2 separate regions of the Homo sapiens genome follow, and region 1 is linked to region 2. Evidence: fine-mapped expression QTL. A gene starts in region 2. The other region holds a variant in brackets. All regions are shown on one strand. Distances are from middle to middle.

Region 1 (13,976 bases), 41 kb before region 2:
TTCCCAGGCTTAATCCTTCCTTTCCCCTGACTGGCAGGACAAGCCTTCAGTGGTATCGCTGCAGAATCTAATCGTACGAGACATTGCCAACCAGGAGAAAGGGATGTTTCTGATCAGCGCAGCCCCACCTGAGATGTACGAGGTGCACACAGCATCCCGGGATGACCGGAGCACCTGGATCCGGGTCATTCAGCAGAGCGTGCGCACGTGAGTGTCTGCCTGCCGCCTGCATGTGCTTATGACCTCAGGGTACCTGCAGCATTAGATCCCAACCATAGAACTCCCTGGGAACAGAATCCAGCATTCAGAGGTGGGGGAAGAGGTTGAGGGAGAGACAAAATGGCCCAAGACTGGAAAGGTCACCTATGTTCTTATGTCCTGTAAAGCCACATTTTATACATTGCCAACCTCAACTCCCTTTCAAATTCAGCATGAGCTGACAAGCAAGGGAATACTTTGAGCTGTCACATGGTGGCATACCTGCCAGCCAACAGTACAATTTCAGCTGCATTCACATGTTCATCTGTAGGCAGAGGGCTGTTATTTGGATTGTATTGTATTTTACATTTATTTTTCTAAAAATGAATGAAAAAGAGGATAATGAAAGCATCGATACTAGAGAGGAACAAGTCTCATAAACAGACTCAACACAATAGAAGCAAGAAGGAAATCAGTGTGTCAAAGCAGCAAATCTTTAGCTTCTATTGGACACACATTAGATTTGAGGCAGTCAACTATGTGTCTAATTGTGATGGGAAAAAACATCAAATAAAGCACAGGTAAGATGTTTAAAATGGATTCTGGAAGATTATGCCTAAAGAATGAAGTGTAAGTGTAATTCTAATTCAGATTTTTACAGGTTTTCTTTCTTTTTTTTTTTTAATTTTTTTTGAGACAGAGTCTCGCTCTCAGCTCACTGCAACCTCCACCTCCTGGATTCAAGCGATTCTCCTGCCTCAGCCTCCCAAATAGCTGGGACTACAGGTGCCCACCACGACCCCAGGCAAATTTTTTTTTTTTTTTTTTTTTTTTGGAGACAGAGTCTCTGTTGCCGGGCTGCCTCAGCCTCCTGAGTAGCTGGGACTACAGGCTCACGCCACCATGCCCAGCTAATTTTTGTATTTTTAGTAGAGACGGGGTTTTACCATGTTGGCCAGGATGGTCTTGATATCTTGACCTCGTAATCGACCCGCCTCAGCCTCCCAAAGTCCTGGGATTACAGGCATGAGCCACTGCACCCAGCCAAATTTTTGTATTTTTAGTGGAGACGGGGTTTTGCCATGTTGACCAAGCTGGTCTCGAACTCCTGATCTCAGATTTATCCGCCCACCTCAGCCTCCAAAAGAGCTGAGATTACAGGCATTAGCCACCATGCCCAGCCAAGATTTTTATAATTTTTCTTTAGCTTTCAGGGAATCAGTTCTCAACTTTATAATTTGTAAACCTTTTTTTTTTTTTAACTTCTGCACCATGGAATTTTGAAAAGGTTTTTAGAAATGCATATAAAAGTATGAAATTGCAGGCCAGGCACAGTGGCTCACGCCTGTAATCCCGGCACTTTGAGAGGCTGAGGCGGGTAGATCACTTGAGGTCAGGAGTTCAAGACCAGCCCGGCCAATATGGTGAAACCTCGTCTCTACTAAAAATACAAAAATTAGCCGGGCGTGGTGGCATAAGCTTGTAATCCCAGTTACGCGGGAAGCTGAGGCAGGAGAATCGCTTGAACCCGGGGGTGGAGGTTGCAGTGAGTCAGGATTGTGCCACTGCACTCCAGCCTAGGTGACAGAGTGAGACTCCATCTCCAAAAAAAAATTATGAAATTGCCTATTCCAAGAAAGCAGTTCAAAATAACCTGTCCTGTTGACAGATCTGTAGTGGCTTCTTTATTAATAGTATTAATATTTATAATTGTGGCCAGGCGCTGTGGCTCACACCTGGAATCCCAGCACTTTGGGAGGCTGAGACAGGCGGACCACTGGAGTTCGAGACCAGCCTGGCCAACATGGCGAAACCCTGTCTCTACTAAAAATATAAAACTTAGCCAGGCATGGTGGTGCGTGCCTGTAGTCCCAGCTGCTTGGGAGACTGAGGCAGGAGAATCACCTGAACCTGGGAGGCAGAGGTTGCAGTGAGCCAAGATCCTGTCACTGGACTCCAGCCTGGGCGAAAGTGCAAGACTCTCTCTCAAAAAAAAAATTATAATTGTGGAAATTAATAATATTAATTGTAATTGATTTGTTGAGCTTCTGTTATGTTCAAAGCACTTTAACATTTCATTTAATCCTAATGAAAAACCTATGAGGAAGATATTACCTTCATTTTTCAAATGAGGAAATAGAGAGGTTACCACCTGGTAAACAGTGGAGCCAGGATTTGCATCCTGTTTGCTTGATGCCAAAGCCTGTACTTGACCCTCTGCACTGTGCTGCCTTTCCAAGCGACCTTTGGAGAGATATATCTCAGTAAACGCAGATAATCAGTGCTAAGAAATGGGAGAAGGTCGGCCGGGCGCGGTGGCTCATGCCTGTAATCCCAGCACTTTGGGAGGCGGAGGATCACCTGAGGTCAGGAGTTTGAGACCAGCCTGGCCAACGTGACGAAACCCCATGTCTACTAAAAATACAAAAATTAGCCAGGCATGGTGGTGCGTGCCTGTAATCCTAGCTACTCAGGAGGCTGAGACAAGTGAATCACTTGAACCCAGGAGGAGGTTGTAGTGAGCTGAGATAGCGCCCTTGCACTCCAGCCTGGGTGACAGAGTAAGACTCCGTCTCAAAAAAAAAAGAAAGAAAAGGGAGAAGGTCAGGACTAAATTAAAGCTAGGGTGTGAGGCTGAGGAGTCTTATCAGAAGATGGAAGCATAAGGCATGTTTGGGAAGGAGGGAAGGCTGATTCTGGTCTATAACCTAGCTTCTGTCTCTCAATGGCATGCGACCTGTTACCCCTCCAGATGCCCATCCAGGGAGGACTTCCCCCTGATTGAGACAGAGGATGAGGCTTACCTGCGGCGAATTAAGAGTAAGTCCACCCACAAGGAGCTCCTTAGTAATTTATAATACATTCACACAATGGAATATTATGCAACTGTTAAAAAGATGAGATGGCTCTATGAGGGCTGGTGTAGATCCACAACTGAAACATATTAAGTGAAAAAAGCAAGGTTTAAAACAATGTAAAGTGTATACTACCATGTGTGTAAAAATAATATGGAAGACCAAGGTTGGGTGAGTAACTTACTTTTTCACTGTAAGGCCTTATATTAGTTAGGGTATGATTTAACTGCTATACTAAAAGACCACAAAAATCTTCTTCCTTAAAAAAGGAAGTAGATTGGCCGGGCGCGGTGGCTCACGCCTGTAATCCCAGCACTTTGGGAGGCCGAGGTGGGCGGATCACGAGGTCAGGAGATTGAGACCATCCTGGCTAACACGGTGAAACCCCGTCTCTACTAAAAAATACAAAAAAAAAATTAGTCGGGGGTGGTGGCGGGTGCCTGTAGTCCCAGCTACTCAGGAGAGTGAGGTAGGAGAATGGCATGAACCTGGGAGGCGGAGCTTGCAGTGAGCTGAGATCACGCCACTGCACTCCAGCCTGGGCAACAGAGGGAGACTCCATCTCAAAAAAAAAAAAAAAAAAAGAAGTAGATTGGCTGGATGCAGTGGCTCACGCCTTTAATCCCAGAAGGATTTGGGAGACAGGAGGATCTCTTGAGGTCAGGAGTTCGAGACCAGTCTGGGCAACAAAACATACATAGCAAGACCCTGTCTCTACAAAAAATTAAAAAAAAAAAAATAGCTAGGCATGATGGTACACACCTGTAGTCCTGGCTACTCGGGAGGCTGAGGTGGGCGGATTGTTTGAGCCCAGGAGTTCAAGGCTGTAATACACTATAATTGCACCACTGCACTCCAGTCTGGGTAACAACAACAACAAAAAAAA[C/A]CCCAACAAGGTAGAATATTATTGCTGTCAACATAACAGTTCAAAGTGGGAAGTGCAGAGTAGTGGTGCAGCTCTGCCATCTTTAACATGAAGTTTTCATCTCTATGTCATGTCTGAAGTGGCTACTCCAGCTCCCACTGTCACACCTGTATCACACCTAGCAAGGAGGAGTAAAGGAATAGAGTTTATACCCTTTTTTCTTTTTCTTTCTTTCTTTTTTTTTTTTTTTTTTTTGAGACAGGGTCTTGCTCTGTCGCCCAGGGTGGAGTGCAGTGGCGTGGCGTGATCTCGACTCACTGCAACCTCCATCTCCCACGTTCAAGTGATTCTCCTGCCTCAGCCTCCCAAGGAGCTGGGATTACAGGCATCCACCACCACTCCTGGCTAATTTTTGTATTTTTAGTAGAGATAGGGTTTCACCATGTTGGCCAGGCTGGTCTCGAACTCCTGGCCTCAAGTGATCCACCTGCCATGCCCAGCCTATACCCATTTCTTTTAAGAGCAGATCTGGAAGATGCTCATATCCATTGGCCAGAATGTAGTCATGTAGCAATATAGTCACGTGCAAGTCAGGCTGGAAAACATAGTTGTTAACTGGGCAGCCATGTGTGCCCAGATGAAACTTCTATGCATTTTCTCATTAAAGGAAGATGGAAAGAATGAACACTGTTGGACAACCTGCAACCCCTTCCACAAATCTTTTTTTTTTTTTTTTGAGACAGAGTCTTGCTGTGTCGCCCAGGCTGGAGTGCAGTGGTGTGATCTCGGCCTCACTGCAACCTCTGCCTCCTGGGTTCAAGCGATTCTTGTGCCTCAGCCTCCTGAGTAGCTGGGACTACAGGCGCGTGCCACCACACCTGGCTAATTTTTGTATTTTAAGTAGAGACAGGGTTTTGCCATGTTAGCCAGGCTGGTCTTGAACTCCTGGCCTCAAGCGATCCACCTGCCTTGGCCTCCCAAAGTGCTGGGATTACAGGTGTGAGCCACTACACCTGACCAACAGAAAGCTTTTTCTTTTTTATAAATGCCAAAATAACAAAATTAAGTCTGCCACACTGCCCCACCCTACCCCTCTCCCCTAGGGCTGTCCTCTACTGGCGCTCTTGCATACCCCTACGTCCTCTCATGTCCTCACTTGTTCCTTATCTGCAGTGGAGTTGCAGCAGAAGGACCGGGCACTGGTGGAGCTGCTGCGAGAGAAGGTCGGGCTGTTTGCTGAGATGACCCATTTCCAGGCCGAAGAGGATGGTGGCAGTGGGATGGCCCTGCCCACCCTGCCCAGGGGCCTTTTCCGCTCTGAGTCCCTTGAGTCCCCTCGTGGCGAGCGGCTGCTGCAGGATGCCATCCGTGAGGGTGAGGGAGCTCCCAGGGAAGAGTCCAGGCTCAAGCACTCACCGTCACAGAATGTGGACATGTGACTAGACATGGACAAACACAGACAAGTGGGATGCCAACCCTATAAACCATAAACGGCCCTGAGTGCCTCTTCTGGGCCAGTTCCTGGGAAAGGCAGGGGAGGAGGTGTGGTCCTTGCTGCTGCTCCATATCGTCCATGCTGCATGGACTCTGCTGCCTCGTAGGCATTTACTGCCCTTTACCTCATCAGTGGTTGTGTGAGTGAAACCCCACTGCCAGTGCAGGGGGCATTCCCCCAGATGCCCAAGTGTCCCACATGTGGGGGTGAATGGCATTCCCCTCAGGGTCCTGTGTCATTCCTGTTCTCACCTCTTCCTCTTTCCCCACAGTGGAGGGTCTGAAAGACCTGCTGGTGGGGCCAGGAGTGGAACTGCTCTTGACACCCCGAGAGCCAGCCCTGCCCTTGGAACCAGACAGCGGTGGTAACACGAGTCCTGGGGTCACTGCCAGTGAGTACCAGGGCAGGGGACCAAGGTAGTAGGTGGGAGGGGCCAAAGTTAGTAGAGTGGTACCAGGGATCAAGTGGTATCAGGGCCCCAGGGAAGTGAGCTCAGCCATCCTTTTCTCCTTCTCAACAGATGGTGAGGCCAGAACCTTCAATGGCTCCATTGAACTCTGCAGAGCTGACTCAGACTCTAGCCAGAGGGTAGGTCCTCAAGAGGTTCTGGGACTTGGCAAGAGGGTGGGAGAGGGACAGCCAGCCTCTGGATCCTCAACACAAAGCTGTCAGGGGCAGGCACCCAGGATTTGTGTGCCTGCTGACTCCCCATTCTTGCCCATTTCTGCAGGATCGAAATGGAAATCAGCTGAGATCACCGCAAGAGGTGAGATGGGAATTGATGGTATAGGAGACTGAAGGGAGGATGTTCTTAGTCTGAGTAGTTAGAGCCCAGTTTGGAGTGGGGTGGGGAAAGCGTCTACATTCAAGTATGTCTCCGGATCCTACTGTCCCCACACCCACCCTTGTTCAACTTTTGGGCAGTTCTCCCATCCTAAAGCTGGGGCCCTGTTCCCACCCTGTCTGTCCTCAGGAGGCGTTACAGCGATTGGTCAATCTCTATGGACTTCTACATGGCCTACAGGTCAGTAGGACAAGGGCTTGAATGGGGAAGGGGAGGAGCCAGGCTAGAGATGCCTGTTTAGGTGGGGCATGGTCATCCCAACAGGCCTTTCTAAATACCCTCCCAATCCAAGCTCTCCAGGAGCGATGATCTGGGCCTTGGAGGGTGAAGGCGAGGGGTAGAAGAGCACAGGGGTTCTGATAAACCCTTCTGCCTGCATTCTACTCCCAGGCAGCTGTGGCCCAGCAGGACACTCTGATGGAAGCCCGGTTCCCTGAGGGCCCTGAGCGGCGGGAGAAGCTGTGCCGAGCCAACTCTCGGGATGGGGAGGCTGGCAGGGCTGGGGCTGCCCCTGTGGCCCCTGAAAAGCAGGCCACGGAACTGGCATTACTGCAGCGGCAACATGCGCTGCTGCAGGAGGAGCTACGGCGCTGCCGGCGGCTAGGTGAAGAACGGGCAACCGAAGCTGGCAGCCTGGAGGCCCGGCTCCGGGAGAGTGAGCAGGCCCGGGCACTGCTGGAGCGTGAGGCCGAAGAGGCTCGAAGGCAGCTGGCCGCCCTGGGCCAGACCGAGCCACTCCCAGCTGAGGCCCCCTGGGCCCGCAGACCTGTGGATCCTCGGCGGCGCAGCCTCCCCGCAGGCGATGCCCTGTACTTGAGTTTCAACCCCCCACAGGTAAGGTGGCCTGCAGTGGTGAATGGACCTGGGGTGGACATAAGGGTCCATGGAGCCCGAAAGAAATTGGGCCATTGGGGATTTGAGCCCAAATGCAATCAGTCAACTGACTTGAAGGATATTGAGATACTGGTTGGAGAACTGAAAAGAAATGTAGATGGGTGCAGGGGTGGAGGAAATTAACTCGGGTCGTGGTGCTGAAAGAGGCCAGTTGGTGGTGGATCTCCTGAAGGGGACTCATGGGTGAGCCCCAGGGGGGAGAGCTGCTGCCTTCAGCCAAGCAGAACCTCCAATCTTCACACTACTCAGTCCCTGACCTGCTGTTCTTCCTGCCCACTGTCCACAGCCCAGCCGAGGCACTGACCGCCTGGATCTACCTGTCACTACTCGCTCTGTCCATCGAAACTTTGAGGACCGAGAGAGGCAGGAACTGGGGAGCCCCGAAGAGCGGCTGCAAGACAGCAGTGACCCTGACACTGGCAGCGAGGAGGAAGGTAGCAGCCGTCTGTCTCCGCCCCACAGTCCACGAGGTGAGACCCTGGCGGAGACATGGACCAGAGGTAGAGTGCAGCCTGGGTACAGGCCATTGGGCTGTGGCTTCCAAATGGGCCCTAACTGACCTGTGAGGCTTGTAGTAACTCTAGGGAGGGACTTCCTGTTTTGTCTGATGATGAATGGGTGGTGGAAGTCTAGGAAGCAGGAGGGGCCTCTCTCCTCCAACTGGTTGGTGATTCCCAACCTTTAGAAGTAAAAACAGATTCTTTTTTAAAAAGGCATGGCGGCTCAGGCCTGTAATCCTAACACTTTGGGAGGCCAAGGCAGGAGGATCGCTTGAGCTCAGAATTTTGAGGCCAGCCTGGGCAACATAGTGAGACCCACCTTCTCTACAAAAAAAAATTCATTTATTTATTTTTTTATTTTATTTAATTAATTTATTTCATTATTATTTTTTGAGATGGAGTCTTGCACTGTTGCCTGGGCTGGAGTGCAGTGGCGTGATCTTGGCTCACTGCAACCTCTGCCTTCCAGGTTCAAGCGATTCTCCTGCCTCAGCCTCCCAAGTAGCTAGGATTACAGGCGCCCACCGCCACGCCCAGCTAATTTTTGTATTTTTAGTAGAAATGGGGTTTCACTATGTTGGCCAGGTTGGTCTTGAACGGCTGACCTCGCGATCCACCTGTCTTGGCCTCCCAGAGTGTCGGGATTACAGGCATGAGCCACCACGCCTGGCTAAATTTTTTTTTTTTTTGAGATGGAATTCTCACTCTGTCGCCAGGCTGGAGTACAGTAGTGAGATCTCCGCTTACTGCAACCTCCGCCTCCCAGGTCCAAGTGATTCTCCTGCCTCAGACTCCCGAGTAGCTGGGACTACAGGCACATGCCTCCACGCCCAGCTAATTTTTGTATTTTTAGAAGAGATAGGGTTTCACCATGTTGCCCAGTCTGGTCTCAATCTCTTGACCTCATGATCCGCCTGCCTTGGCCTCCCAAAGTGCTGGGATTACAGATGTGAGCCACTGCACCCGGTCTATTTTATTTTATTTTATTTTATTTTATTTTATTTATTTATTTATTTAAGATGGAGTCTCACTCTGTCACCCAGGCTGGAGTGCAGTGGCACAATCTCAGCTCACTGCAACCTCCACCTCCTGAGTTCAAGTGATTCTCCTGCCTCAGCCTCTCGAGTAGCTGGGATTTACAGGCATGCACTACCACACCTGGCTAATTTTTTTTGTATTTTTTAGTAGAGATGGGGTTTCACCATGTTGGCCAGGCTGGTCTCGAACTCCTGGCCTCAGGTGATTCACCCACATTGGCCTCCCAAAGTGCTGGGATTACAGGTGTGAGCCACCGTGCCTGGTCCCCCAAAATTTTTTTAATTAGCCAGGTGTGGTGGAGTGAGCCTGTAGTCCTAGCTACGGAGAGTGAGAGTGAGGTGAGAGGATCACTTGAGCCCAGCAGGTTGAGTTGACAGTACTCCGTGATTGCTCCAGCCTGGGCGACAGAAAGAGACCCGGAGACCCAGACAGAGGATCTCACTCTAAAATTTTTTATGTTAGAGAGAGGGTCTTGTGCTGTTGCCGAGGCTGGACTCAAACTCCTGGGCTTAAGTGATCCTCCCAAGTAGCTGGGGCTACAGGTACATACCACTGTGCCTGGGAAGGTATAGTTTTTTGTTTTGTTTTGTTTTGTTTTTTTTGAGACAGTTTTGCTCTGTCACCCAGGCTGGAGTGTAGTGGCACAATCTCAGCTCACTGCAACTTCCACCTCCCAAGTTCAAGCAATTCTTGTTCCTCAGCCTCCCGAGTAGCTGGGATTACAGGCGCATGCCACCACATATAGCTAATTTTTGGCATTTTTAGTAGAGATGGGGTTTCACCATGTTGGCCAGGCTGGTCTCCAACTCCTGGCCTTAAGTGATTCTCCCACCTTAGCCTCCCAAAGTGTTAGGATTATAAGCACGAGCCATGGGGCCAGTTTTTAAAGTAAAAAAAGTTTCAAAGAACTTCAAGTTTTTACAGTTGGTTCATGAAATAAAAAATTACCAAAAGCTTTAACCTTAAAGTATTTTGTATTTTCCTAATCAAATTGTATCTTTGGATACTGTAAAAGTGTATCCGGTACCTAGGTATGGATACCTTGCTTACTTTGTTGCCAAAGGTTTTCCTCTCACCCAAGAATTTACAGAACCCTGTCATCCCTTCACAGCCCCAGAGCCCCCTGAGCCTGCAGATGGGGAGGCATTAGTCTAGGGGTACAGTTCCTCATGGGAGTCTCTGCTAACTCACTGGCTTTGTCCTGTCCCCCTTCAGACTTTACCAGAATGCAGGACATCCCGGAGGAGACGGAGAGCCGCGACGGGGAGGCTGTAGCCTCCGAGAGCTAAGGGGGCCCCTCCCCCCTGCCCCGTGCCCCACTGAAGAACATTACTGAGGGGGCTAACCTTGGGGACTCCAATTTGCCAATGATGAGGGAACATTTGAAAGAACTGCAAATTGTCCTTGCCAGCTCTTGGGATCCTTGGATACCTGGGGCCATTTAAGAAGCTAGGGGAATTAGGCCACAACACCCCCTGGGACATCCGAAAGCTACACCACAGATGCCAGTGGTTCATGCCTTCTTCCCGCAACTTTAGGAAAATTTATTTATTTATTGTTTATTAGTTATGGGGGGAGAGGGGAGATTTAAAGGACCAGGGACATGGGAACCAAGCCATAGGGATCAGAGGGCCTTGTCCTTGAACACTACTGGGGTATATTCAGGCTCATCCACGCAGCTGCTGGGTTCTTGCCCTAACGGCCCTCCCCTGCAACATCCGTCTTGGAGGAGAGGCTGCAGCCACAGCACCCTACTGCCCTTTAAATAAAGGAGGGCTGTGGGCAGGGCCATGTCCCTTTCTCCTCTCCCCTCAACCTCTTACTGCTGTTCTCCCTTTCTCCGTCCTTCATGGAAGCCCTGGGAGATAACCTGGCTTCCTGGAGTTGATGGAATAAAGGTTGGGGTGGCCATAATGGTTTGTTGGGGGTGAGGGAAAAAACCCACAGGGACCAGAATGTTTTGTTGTTCTTTTGTTTTCTTTTTTGTACCAAAGTCAACTGCACGTGTTTTATATTTTTAAGAGATCGTAGGCAATTAGAGATCGAAGCCTCCTATCTCCACATCTCTGAAGAAGTTGAGGGGTGGGGGAGAGAATGACTTCTGCCTTCATCTGCAGTAACGGGGGGACCTATACTGACCTCTTCCCCAGCCATTTAGAAACAAGTTCTAGGGTGGGTTGGAAAATCTCCAAGAGCCCTGACCTCATCTTCCACCTCAGCAACCATGACCTGAAACCTCAGCGTGAATTTGGGGGATTTTTCAGTGGAACCCTTGCCCCCAAATGTCGACCAGCCCCCAAATGTCGAAGAATTTTCTTCTTGCCAATTTTGTTGTTTAAAAAAAAAATTCAGGGAAAATTAAAAACCTGGAACTCCATAAGGTACTGTCTTCCATAATGTCTGCCAATTCTGAGGAGGATGGTAGTAGAGAGCCGGGCAGTGACCTAAGTTCCTCTGAAAGGGGCCTTTTCCTCTCACCGCAAGGACAGCCTCTGCCTCACTGAAGAGAGGGGGCACTAACAAAAGTAACCACTGCAAATCTTTTTTTTGTTTTTTTAATTCACAAATACAAGGATAAAAACAAAGGGGCACACAGGTTCCAATGTTGGGAATTCCGGTATCAGGAAAAGTGTGTTCATCGTATTTGTATGCCATGCTCAGCAATCACCTCCACCTATTGCCCCCATCCCCAGTGTCATTCATTGTCAGATCCATCCCCCACTAGGCCCTTGTTGATCTCCATGATGTCGGGCCCTGGGGTTACCCGTCACAGGAGCTGCTCATTTACTGTCCCTCTTTGAGAGGCAGTGAGAGATGAGCTGGTTTCAGTTCTTGGTTTTAGTTGGTTTTACTTCCTGTTCCCAGTTGGTACTTACTTTGGGGCTGTGGGGGAGGGGAGGAGGTGAGAGTCTAGGGTTGTATAAATGCTGGTATGAATTCACATCCCTGTTGGAGCCTGTGGGGTCAGATCAGGAGAAGGGGGCTCAGGCCCTCAGCTAGAAAGAGGAATTGAAGTCACATGGGGAGCAGGCTGGGGGAGCAGCCAGCACCCTCCCCTTCTGTAACTCTCATCCACCAGCATCAAGCCTTTACAAGGTGCTTTCTCAGCCATTACGGGGATCCTGAGAATGGGGAATTGTTCTCATTTTATGGGCCGGGAAACCTAGGTGCACGAAGCTTGCCAGGCCAGGAGGGGGCCGGCCTTCTTAGTTCCAGTCCACCACTTTTCTCTCTTGGCTACTCTGCCTAAAAATACCAGGGCTGGCTGGGTGCAGTGGCTCACGCCTATAATCCCAGCACTTTGGGAAGCTGAGTTGGGTGGATCACTTGAGGCCAGGAGTTCGAGACCAGCCTGGCCAACATGGTGAAACCCCATCTCTACTAAAAATACAAAAATTAGCCGGGCGTGATGGCGGGCACCTGTATTCCCAGCTACCTGGGAGGCTGAGGTGGGAGAATTGCTTGAACCCGGGAGGCAGAGGTTGCAGTGAGCCGAGATTGTGCCACTGCACTCCAGCACTCCAGCCTGGGTGACAGAGCAAGACCCTGCCTGGAGAAAAGAAAAAAAAAAAAACACCAGGGCTTCACATTTCACACACAGGGACACAGGGCTCAGCAGCTGTCTTCCAGGTCAGCTGGAAGTATCTCCGACCCAGAGCTGTGAGGGTGGCACCTTTAGGTGGGGAAGGAAGGTAGGTGGGGGTAGGGTGAGGATATTAGACAGCATGCAGAGACCACCAAGAAAGGGGAATGCAGGCTCTCCCAGAATGCCCCACAGATCCAATGAGAGATGCTGGTCAGCAGAGAACATGGAAACCTGGAGACACAGCCCAGAGTGGGTGTGAAGTCCCCCGCTGCTTTCTTTGAAGCAGTGCTGTCCCTTCTGCCACCCCGTACCAACCCCCTCCACACACACACACACACACACACACACACACACACACACACACCTTCAGCCCCAGAACATGGGGCACAAGCATTTGTCTGATGTGTCTACTCCTGAGAGCTAGGCCTCTTCCTCACATCTTTCACCGTTGTGTCCCCTGTCCCCTCCCTAACCCACTTTTGGGAACCCACAGTCTTAACCTCTGTCCCTCCTGCTGAAGTTTCAAAGCCATTTGGCTTGGTGTTCCAGGGAGCCAGGGCCCAGGTTCTCACCAAAACATTGCCTTCCCTCCGTTCCAAGGGGAGCTCCAGGCCGCCTGCTCTGCCCAGCCCTCCCTTCTCCATCCTCCACTGCACCCTCCTCGTTCCACTCCCCCACAAGAGTAGGTCTTTGTGCATGCAGTTCATCTCTAACTTGGACCTGTGTACACTTTGTCAATATTTACCTCTGGGGCCCATAAAGCAGAGATGCCCCCAGAGGAGCCAATATCCGGAGCCCAGCAAAGCCATCAGAGGGAGCTGCTGGGGTGGGAAGATGGGTGCTTAGGTGGTGAGGGATTTTCCATTGCCTGCATGGGCTAGGAATAGACGTGGAGTTTTGGAACTAGTTTAAACATCATCAAAAAGAGGAAATTAAACAAGAGGCTAATTAAGTTCCTTTCACATTGCTTAATCTGTTGTGAATTGGGTGCCTCTTTGGAGCCTCCTCTGCCCAGCAATTAAAGGAACTGGGACAGGGGGCACCTGGAGGCACTGTGGCCTCCCCCTTCACAGGGCGCTCTGCACTTAATAAGGCGGCACTGCTCCCAGCTGCTGCCCCAGGAGCCTGAGCAGCCTGCGTCCTCATAGGTTACAAGTCATGCCAGAGAGCTTGGGGCGGGGGGCGGTGGGGGGGCAGTGGAAGTGGGAGCTCTACCTCATCTTCCCTCTGCCTCCCTCCTTTCTAGGGGCTGCCTCCTAGAAAATCCTTCTGATGGCTAACCTTTATCATTGATGCATCTCAATACAGGAACCAAAGAGGAACCCCTGTCCTGGAGAACACACCTTCAAGAGGGGCTTAGGGGCCAACCTCTGAGTTCTTTATGTGAGACTTTCATTATACCCCACTTCAGAGCATATACAACCATTCCAGCTGAGACATGGTTCCCCATCCCCATCTCCCAGCTGCACGCTTATTTCCTCCCATCTCTCTGTCTCCATTTTACACAGGGTGTAAGAATAATAGCTCGACCGGGTGCGGTGGCTCACGCCTGTAACTCCAGCACTTTGGGAGGCCGAGGTGGGCAGATCACTAGAGGTCAGGAGTTTGAGACCAGCCTGGCCAATATGGTGAAACTCTGTCTCTATTAAAAATTACAAAAAATTGGCCAGGCATGGTAGCGGGAGCCTGTAGTCCCAGCTA
Region 2 (9,200 bases):
AACTTTCCTTTTTTTCTTTTTTTTTCTTTTTTTGTGTTTCTTTTTTCTTTCTCTGTTTTCTTACATGGTTCTGGTGGATTCACATTTGCTGATGCTGGTGCTGTTTTTCGTGTGATCTTCAACGTTTTTGGGTGACCATTGACCCTGTGACCTCAAAATGGTGTCCAACTAACCACTTAAAATTAACATCTTTTTTTTAATTAACGAATTTATGGTATTTTTTTTTTTCCCTTGGCGGGGATGGGGTTGGGGTTGTTTTTTCTCTATTCTAGATTATCCAGCCAAGAAGATGAAAACTACAGAGAAGGGATTTGGCTTGGTGGCTTATGCTGCAGATTCATCTGATGAAGAGGAGGAACATGGAGGTCATAAAAATGCAAGTAGTTTTCCACAGGGCTGGAGTTTGGGATACCAATATCCTTCATCACAACCACGAGCTAAACAACAGATGCCATTCTGGATGGCTCCCTAGGAAACAGTGGAACAGAGTTTTGACCCTCAGTGACTCTTCTTAGCAATAATGCATGCATTTGATTTAACAAGACTCTGGGGCCTGTGCTGGGAACCATCTGGACCTTTGCAGAAGTTAGAGATTCAGTGCCCCCCTTTCTTAAAGGGGTTCCTTAACAACCACAAAAATCCTTATTTCTGCAGTGGCATAGAATCTGTTAAAATTTAATTAGAATCACAAATTTATCTCAGAAGCTTTTTAACAGTTGGTGAAATGTGCTTGTCCAACAAAGCATCCTAACAGGGTCGTTCCCATACACATTTGACCTGGTCAGCCTTTTCCAGGTGAATAGCCCCAGTTCTGACATAAAGAAAGTTTTATTTGTATTTTACTACTGTTTGGTCAATTTTGATATATAACTGGTTACAAACAGAGCCTTACTATTTATTAGTGGGGAAATGATTTTAAGACCGTCCTTTTCAGTATTTAATTCTGACAGATCTGCATCCCTGTTTTGTTTTGGATTATTTCTGTTTTGGAAAATGCTGTCTCATTTAAAACTGTTGGATATAGCTGGATCCTGGATAGGAAAATGAAATTATTTTTTCATTGTGTTTTTTAATTGGGGTGATCCAAAGCTGGCACCTTCAGGCACATTGGTCTCATAGCCATTACTGTTTTTATTGCCCTTCTAAGATCCTGTCTTCAGCTGGGTCAGAGAAAACTTCTTGACTAAAACTGGTCAGAACTCATCACAGAAATGAAATACAGTGGTCTCTCTCTCCCAGAACTGGTTGCAGCTAAAACAGAGAGATCTGACTGCTGGCTATAGGATTTTGGACTTAATGACTGAAATTGCAAATTGTCCTTTTTCTTGGCATTACAGATTTTGCCAAAATAACTTTTTGTATCAAATATTGATGTGTGAAAGTGAAGGAGCTAGTCTGCTGAACCAGGAATAGTTTGAGATATTGAACTGTCATTTTTGCACATTTGAATACTTTGCAGGCTGGCTTTGTATAAACTTATCCTCTGGTTTCCTATATGTTGTAAATATTTAGACCATAATTTCATTATAAATAAATCTATAAATATTCTGCTTGTGGTTTCTCTGTTTTCTTCCACAACCCATCCATACACTGAAATTCATAAACTTTTTTACTCATAGCACAATGCAACTATAACATTACCAGAAAAATACATATACAGACCCCAAGGTTTGCATATAGTTCCCAGAGTTATGTAACTGCAAAATGTACCCTTAAAGTTCAAATGAAAAGGTTAAGGATTATTATGCTGGATATTTTCCATTTTCATATTTTAGCCCTCCTTTATTTAACAGCGTATTAAAAGGACTTCATGAATGAAGCGGGTTTTAAAGGAAATATGTTATTCTTGGAAAGACATTTTATTTTTTTTTGAGATGGAGTCTCGCTCTGTCACCCAGGCTGGAGTGGAATGGTGCAATCCTGGCTCACCGCAACCTCCTGGGTTCAAGTGGTTCTCCAGCCTCAGCCTCCTGAGTAGCTGGGATTATAGGCACCTACCACCATGCCCAACTAATTTTTATATTTTTAGTAGAGACAGGGAGTCACCATTTTGGCCAGGCTGGTCTTGAACTCCTGATCCTCAAGTGATCAGCCCACTTCAGCCTCCCAAAGTCCTGGGATTACAGGCGTGAGCCAGCACTCCTGGCCAGAAAGACTTAAATTTTGAGACGGAGTTTTGCTCTGTTGCCAGGCTGGAGTGCAGTGGCACCCTCTCAGCCAGCTAACTGCAACCTCCACCTCCCAGGTTCAAGTGATTCTCCTGCCTCAGCCTCCCGAGTAGCTGGGACTTATAGGCGCATGCCACCACACCCAGCTAATTCTTTTGTATTTTTAGTAGAGACGGTTTTACATGTTGGCCAGGATGGTCTCTTATTTCTTGACCTCATGACTCACCTGCCTCGGCCTCCCAGAGTGCTGGGATTACAGGTGTGAGCCACCGCGCCCGCCCGGCCCAGAAAGACATTTAAAAAGAACAGTGGTAGGCAGAGCTGCATGAGAACAATTTTCGTGTCAGTTTCTTCTAGCACCTGTGCTACGTAAATAGAGGGGAATATGGTTATAGTGGCTGCGCTTCAGTTCTGTATTTAACTCAAGGCCTCTGTTAACTCAGAGCTCTCTTTCCTGCCAGAGTGTGGTACATTTATTTAAAACAAGTTTTTGTGTGTCTTATACGTGTTTAAAATACATACAGAACTCTGATTAGGGAGTGTTGTGAACATCTGGTTTCTGAGAATGAATTTAGGTTTCAATAGCAAAAGTCATTGTGGCCGCTCCTTTAGGAAAGTCATTTTTCTCCTATGAGTAGTCATCCCCGGTAGACTTGACTGAAATCCTGTGTTTTAGGAGGATTTGGGGGGTGCCCCTGTCCTCCCTTCCTCTCATTACATTGGGTCAAATTAGTTTTGGGTTTTTTTTTTTCCCACAAGCAGCAAACAACCCTCGGTAAGTTGTTAATTTAAGTGTCCCTGCATGTCTCTTATCACGTACTCCCTTCCCTTTTGTGTAAATAATTTACTTTCTACTCGTGATTAAATACCCTTGTCTGTGAGTGCATACACCCTAGGTTGGGTAGGTGACCAGAGGACCTTCAGCGGTGGGTCCCGGAACTGGGTTTTAGGGACCTGGGAGGGGCGGGAAGAGGGCGGGGCAGGCTGTGGGCGTCACTGAGTGGCCCCGCCCCTCCTTCCGCGACTCGGGCGCCGGTGGCGCCATCTTACTCGGTTGCGGGAGGGGTCACAGGTCAGTGCCGGAGCCTCCGCGAGTGAAGGAAGACGAAGTGCGTGACCCGACCGGCTGTGGTGTTCCAGTCCCCACTGACCAGTAGGAGCAGCAGGGCGTCGGCTTGTGAGGTAGAGGGGTGGGGAGTCTGGCGGCGGAGCAGCAGCTGGGGGTGGGGAGGGGGTTCGGAGGAGAATGGGGAGGGGGCGGAACCTCTGGGTACCGCAGACGTGAGAGAACCCCTGCGGCCTAAGGGGCCGCATCCCTTTCTTCCCAAAACTTTCTCCTTGTCCCTACTGTGCCGAGACGTAAATTTATTTGTATCTTTTTATTTTTCTCTTTGGAAAAAGTAAAACCTGTGATGTGTCATGTGACTGAACTGTCTAGGAGGGAGGGTGAAGATGGGGGGGTTTCTTAGGGCCACCCGAAAGGGTGCAGTGGTGAGCAAGAGGGACAGGCCAGAGTAAGAGGGACAGGCCAGAATATGTATGGAAAGGTAAGGCACTGGCTTGAGGGCTGTCGCCGTGGTGTCTCCATCCTGGATTAAGCATTTCCTCCTCCTTTTCTAGGTGGCTTTTCCTCGGGGCAACCGAGGAAGGCCCCAAGAGGACAATGGATTCTGGAACTCGCCCAGTTGGTAGCTGCTGTAGCAGCCCCGCTGGGCTCTCACGGGAGTACAAACTAGTGATGCTGGGTGCTGGTGGTGTAGGGAAGAGTGGTAGGTAACATTTTCCATTTGACAGGAAGCATGGATGAAAAGTACTTAAATGACCAGATGGGATACTTGCTATCTTGCAATGTTAATACTTAAAATTCTCTCTGTGGGTCACCTTTGTGAGGATTTGACTTTTATTTCTTCTTTTGAAGCCATGACCATGCAGTTCATCAGCCACCGATTCCCAGAAGATCATGATCCCACCATTGGTAAGCCAGATCATCACTTATGTTTCCAAATATACCCCATAAAAATATCTTAATGAATATCAGTAGTTTCTAACTATTTATATTTTGAGGCTTTTTTGGAGTCTAATTCAGATTTATTTAGAAACAAGGGTATCAGCAGTTGGTAAGCAACTGAATATTTCTTTTTTTTTCAGACTTTATGTCATAAGCCATCTTTAGTCTTTGTCTCTTACTGAACATTAATGGGACAACTCTCTTTGTTGTATTTTTTTATGGTTGTATACAGGCCACTTAACGAAGCCTTTTCTTGCTGTCACTTCTCTAAGGGTATGACTTGAGACTCGCTCTGTAACTGTGAGTCAGCTGGTTTGAACTTCCACAAAAGGAAGCAGAGAAACAAGTAGAGCCAGGCTGCTGAACTCTTACAACCCAGACATGCCAAGCCTGGACATCTTGCACTTGGAGCTCTTGGTTTACTTCCTTATACCTTAAGTTCATTACGTAGTAATGTCTTCTCCCATGTCTGTCTGTTGTTTTTTTTTTTTTTTTGAGATGGAGTCTCGCACTGTCTCCCAGGCTGGAGGGCAATGGTGCGATCTCCGGTCACTGTAACCTCCGCCTCCCGGGTTCAAGCAATTCTCCTGCCTCAGCCTCCTGAGTAGCTGGGATTACAGGCATCTGCCACCACACCCGGCTAATTTTTGTATTTTTAGTAGAGATGGGATTTCACTATGTTGGCCAGGCTGGTCTCAAACTCCTGACCTCAAGTAATCCATCCACCTCAGCCTCGAAAAGTACTGGGATTACAGGCGTGAGCCACTGTGCCTAGCCCTCCGATGTCTTTTATGGTCCTTAACTCTTGTTGCAGAACGCTAATAGAGTAAAAAAGTCATTTTGTTTGCTTTGACTTTTTTATTTTTTAATTGCTAATCTCTACAAAGACTAAGAACATTACTGTCATTCCTAAACCATAAGGAAGCAGGTTTGATTCTAAGGGTTTATATCCTAATATGAAAGAAAAATGGATGTGGGAATGGGAGAGGGCACAGAAAGTCAGCTGTACTGTTATTTTCTTTTTTTGTTTTTTTTTTTGGAGACGGTGTCTCACCCTGTTGCCCGGGCTGGAGTGCGGTGGCACAATCTCGGCTCACTACAAGCTCCACCTCCCAGGTTCATGCCATTCTCCTGCCTCAGCCTCCCGAGTATCTGGGACTACAGGCGCCCGCCACCAAGCCCGGCTAATTTTTTTTTGTATTTTTAGTAGAGATGGGATTTCACCGTGTTAGCCAGGATGGTCTCAATCTCCTGACCTCGTGATCTGCCCACCTCGGACTCCCAAAGTGCTGGGATTACAGGCGTGACCACTGCGCCGGGCCTTATTATTTTCAGTATGTGACACTCTTTGCCATGATCCTAGTTCTCTAGGAAGGATTTCCATTGGGTCAGGCCTCTGCTGCTCTGTTTCCCGCAAAGCCAATAATGTTTTGTGGTGGCCCAGCTTTGATATGGTCATTTCATAGAGCACATGATTCCAGGGATGGGAAAAATAGAAAAAGTCTTGACTTTTTCATGTACTATATCAAATTTAGAACACTGTTCAGAGATTCAGGCCAGGCGCGGTGGCTCATGCCTGTAATCCCAGCACTTTGAGAGGTCGAGGCGGGTGGAGCACCTGAGGTCAGGAGTTCGAGACCAGCCTGGCCAACATGGTGAAACCCCATCTCTACTAAAAATACCAAAACTAGCCGGGCGTGGTGCTGGGTGCCTGTAATCCCAGCTACTGCGGGGGCTGAGGCAGGAGAATTGCTTGAACCTGGGAGGCGGAGGTTGCAGTGAGCCGAGATAGTGCCATCACACTCCAGCCTGGGGGATAAGAGCAAGCTTTTGTCTCAAAAAAAAAAAAAAAAATTGTTCAGAGATTCAAATTATGGCGGGAGTTCTAGGAATAAAATGAATTTAGGGCTTACGCATATGTACTTGAGAACTCCAAAAGCATCTTTTCCTTTCTTTTTTTTTGAGACAGAGTCTGACTCTGTCATCCAGGCTGGAGTGCAGTGGCGCCGTCTTGGCTCACTGCAAGCTCCGCCTCCCGGGTTCACGCCATTCTCCTGCCTCAGCCTCCTGAGTAGCTGGGACTACAGGGGCCCATCACCACGCCCGGCTAATTTTTTGTACCTTTAGTAGAGACAGGGTTTCACTGTGTTAGCCAGGATGGTCTCGATCTCCTGACCTCGTGATCTGTCTGCCTTGGCCTCCCAAAGTGCTGGGATTACAGGCGTGAGCCACCGTGCCCGGCCGCGTCTTTCCCTTTCTTTAAAGTAAAACTCAAATACTCGTCTCCTGTAAGAGTTATCTGTATTTTTTTTTTTGTTTTTTTTTTTTAGATGGAGTCTCACTGTCGCCCAGGCTAGAGTGCAGTGGCATGATCTCGGCTCACTGCAGGCTCCGCCCCCCCGGGGTTCATGCCATTCTCCTGCCTCAGGCTCCAGCGTAGCTGGGACTACAGGCACCCGCCACCTCGCCTGGCTAATTTTTTGTATTTTTAGTAGAGACGGGGTTTCACCGTGTTAGCCAGGATGGTCTCGATCTCCTGACCTTGTGATCCGTCCGCCTCGGCCTCCCAAAGTGCTGGGATTACAGGCGTGAGCCACCGCATCCGGCCAAGTTATCTGTTTTAATCAATTTTCCTCCAGTTAACTACTCTCCTGGCAATATTATCTGATTCAACAGCAAATACTTATGTCTTCTGAGTTTCTATTATGTGCCAAGCACTGCTTACCCTCAGGGTACAGTGGTGATCAAAAAGATGAGGTTTCTGTTCTTGAGTTTCTAATTTAGTGCATTTGATTTCAAGCTCTGGCTGTAAACTCAGAAAAACTTTACATTGTAACTGGTAGAGATATAAAAGCATACAAGGCCGGGTGCGGAGGCTTACGCCTGTAATCCTGAGCCTGCAATCCTGTAATCGAAGCACTTTAGGAGGCCAAGGCACCTGAGGTCAGGAGTTCAAGACCAGCCTGGCCAACATGGTAAAACCCCATCTCTACTGAAAATACAAAAATTAGCTGGGCGTGTTACTGCTGCATGCCTGTAATCCCAGCTACTCAGGAAGCTGAGGTGGGAGAATTCCTTGAACCCAGAAGGCAGAGGTTGCAGTGAGCCGAGATTGCACCACTGCACTCCGCCCTGAGCGACAGAGTGAGACTTTGCCTCAAAAAAAAAAAAAAAAAGCATATGAATGTGTGCATATGTATATATAAATTATATACACAAGCGCATGTGTATGTGTAGCTAAAATATTATGAAACTTTACCTCACTACATCTGGTGCACTCTGATATTTTCTTTTCTTTTCTTTTTTTTTGAGACAGGGTCTCACTCTGTTGCCCATGCTGGAGTGCAGTGTTGTGATCTTGGCTCACTGCAGCCTGGACCTCCTGGGTTCAGGTGATCCTCCCGCCTCACCCTACCAAATACCTGGGACTGCAGGCGTAGGCCACTAAGCCCAGCTAATATTTTTGGATTTTTAGTAGAGATGAGGTCTCGCTCTATTGCCCAGGCTGGTCTCAAACTCCTGAGCGCAAGTGATCCTCCCACCTGGACCTCCCAAAGCACTGAGATTACAGGCGTGAGAGCCACTGTACCTCACCCACTCTGGTATTTTCTTTCTTTTTTTTTCTTTTTTTCTTTTTTTTTTTTTTTTTTTTTTGAGACGGAGAATTTCACTCCTGTTGCCCAGGCTAGAGTCCAGTGGCACAATCTTGGCTCACTGCAACCTCCACCTCCCAGTTCAAGCGATTCTCCTGCCTCAGCCTCCCAAGTAGCTGGGATTACAGGCGCCTGTGACCACATCCAGATAATTTTTGTATTTTTAGTAGAGATGGGGTTTCACCACATTAGCCAGGCTGGTCTTGAACTCCTGACCTCAGGTGATCCACCCGCCTCAGCCTCCCAAAGTGCTGGGATTACAGGCATGAACCACTGTGCCTGGCCTGGTATTTTCTATTTTTATTTAGGTTTCTGCTTGTTTATTTTAATGCTGGTCCCGGCCCATTAAGTAGATTTCACAACTCACTAATCCTAATGAATAATTGAGAAGCATTGATTTAATGAGCTCTTCATCTTTGAGGAAGAGACAGAAGCAGGAATTCAAGAAAAAATGTTAAAAGGAAATACATTGAGATGTAAGCAGCAGTTGTTAAGTGAATGAAATATTGCGTGGCTTTTTTTTTCTTTTTAGTTTTCTATATTTTCCAAGGTTACTATAGTAATATGCATAAAGAAATTTGCTTTCAGAAAAGAGAAATTACGAAACTGTGGATTATTTAGAAAATAGTCAGTTAGACCGGGTGCAGTGGCTCACGCCTGTAATCCCAACACTTTGGGAGGCTGAGGCAGGTGGATCATTTGAGGTCAGGCGTTCAAGACCAGCCTGGCCAACATGGTGAAACCCTGTCTATACTAAAAATACAAAAATTAGCCGGGCAATAGTGGCATGTGCCTGTAATCCCAGCTACTCAGGAGGCTGAGGCAGGAGAATCCCTTGAGCCTGGGAGGCAGAAGTTGTGGTGAGCCGAGATCATGCCACTGCACTCCAGTCTGGGTGATAGAGTGAGAGCCTGTCTCAAAAAAAAAAAAAATAGTGAATTATATATTTTTTTCCTTTTTTGTAGTATTGAGGAGGAAGTATAACACATGGTTAATAATGCTTTTCAGTTCAGCAATCTTGGATTTTAATCCTCATTCTGTCACTAATTAACTAATTTAGAGAAGACATTAATATTTTCAAGTTGAATTTTCTTTAGCTGTAAAATGGAGGTAATAATGCCTACTTCATTGGATTATTGTGATTATTGAAGAATTAATATATATAAGTTACTTAGTATAATGTCTGGTAGATAATAACAATTTAATAAATGGTAAAGTTACTTTTCAGGCCTAATTTTTTTTTTCCCCTAAGAGATGGGGTCTCGGCTGAGTGCAGTGGCCCACACCTGTAATACCAGCACTTTGGGAGGCCAAGGCAGGAGGATTGTTTCAACCCAGGAGTTCGAGACTAGCCTGGACAACATTGCAAAA

What was found.
Region 1: its variant is fine-mapped to the expression of RIT1 in blood mononuclear cells (TOPMed, PIP above 0.99).

The regions. Positions count from the first base shown.
Region 1 is chr1:155,943,944-155,957,919 of GRCh38, reverse strand. It overlaps ARHGEF2 (Rho/Rac guanine nucleotide exchange factor 2), which reads left to right. Exons shown (of 22, transcript NM_001162383.2): 13 at 38-207; 14 at 2,951-3,018; 15 at 5,092-5,292; 16 at 5,685-5,804; 17 at 5,934-6,001; 18 at 6,144-6,179; 19 at 6,387-6,437; 20 at 6,648-7,091; 21 at 7,438-7,621; 22 at 9,905-11,066. The coding sequence ends at 9,978. It overlaps MIR6738 (microRNA 6738), which reads left to right and starts at 6,584; the gene lies at 6,584-6,647. The variant C/A (reference allele first, on the strand shown) is at 3,940.
Region 2 is chr1:155,905,393-155,914,592 of GRCh38, reverse strand. RIT1 (Ras like without CAAX 1) reads left to right here and starts at 3,244. Exons shown (of 6, transcript NM_006912.6): 1 at 3,244-3,350; 2 at 3,789-3,937; 3 at 4,087-4,143. The coding sequence starts at 3,832. KHDC4 (KH domain containing 4, pre-mRNA splicing factor) reads left to right here. Exons shown (of 14, transcript NM_014949.4): 14 at 273-1,548. The coding sequence ends at 472.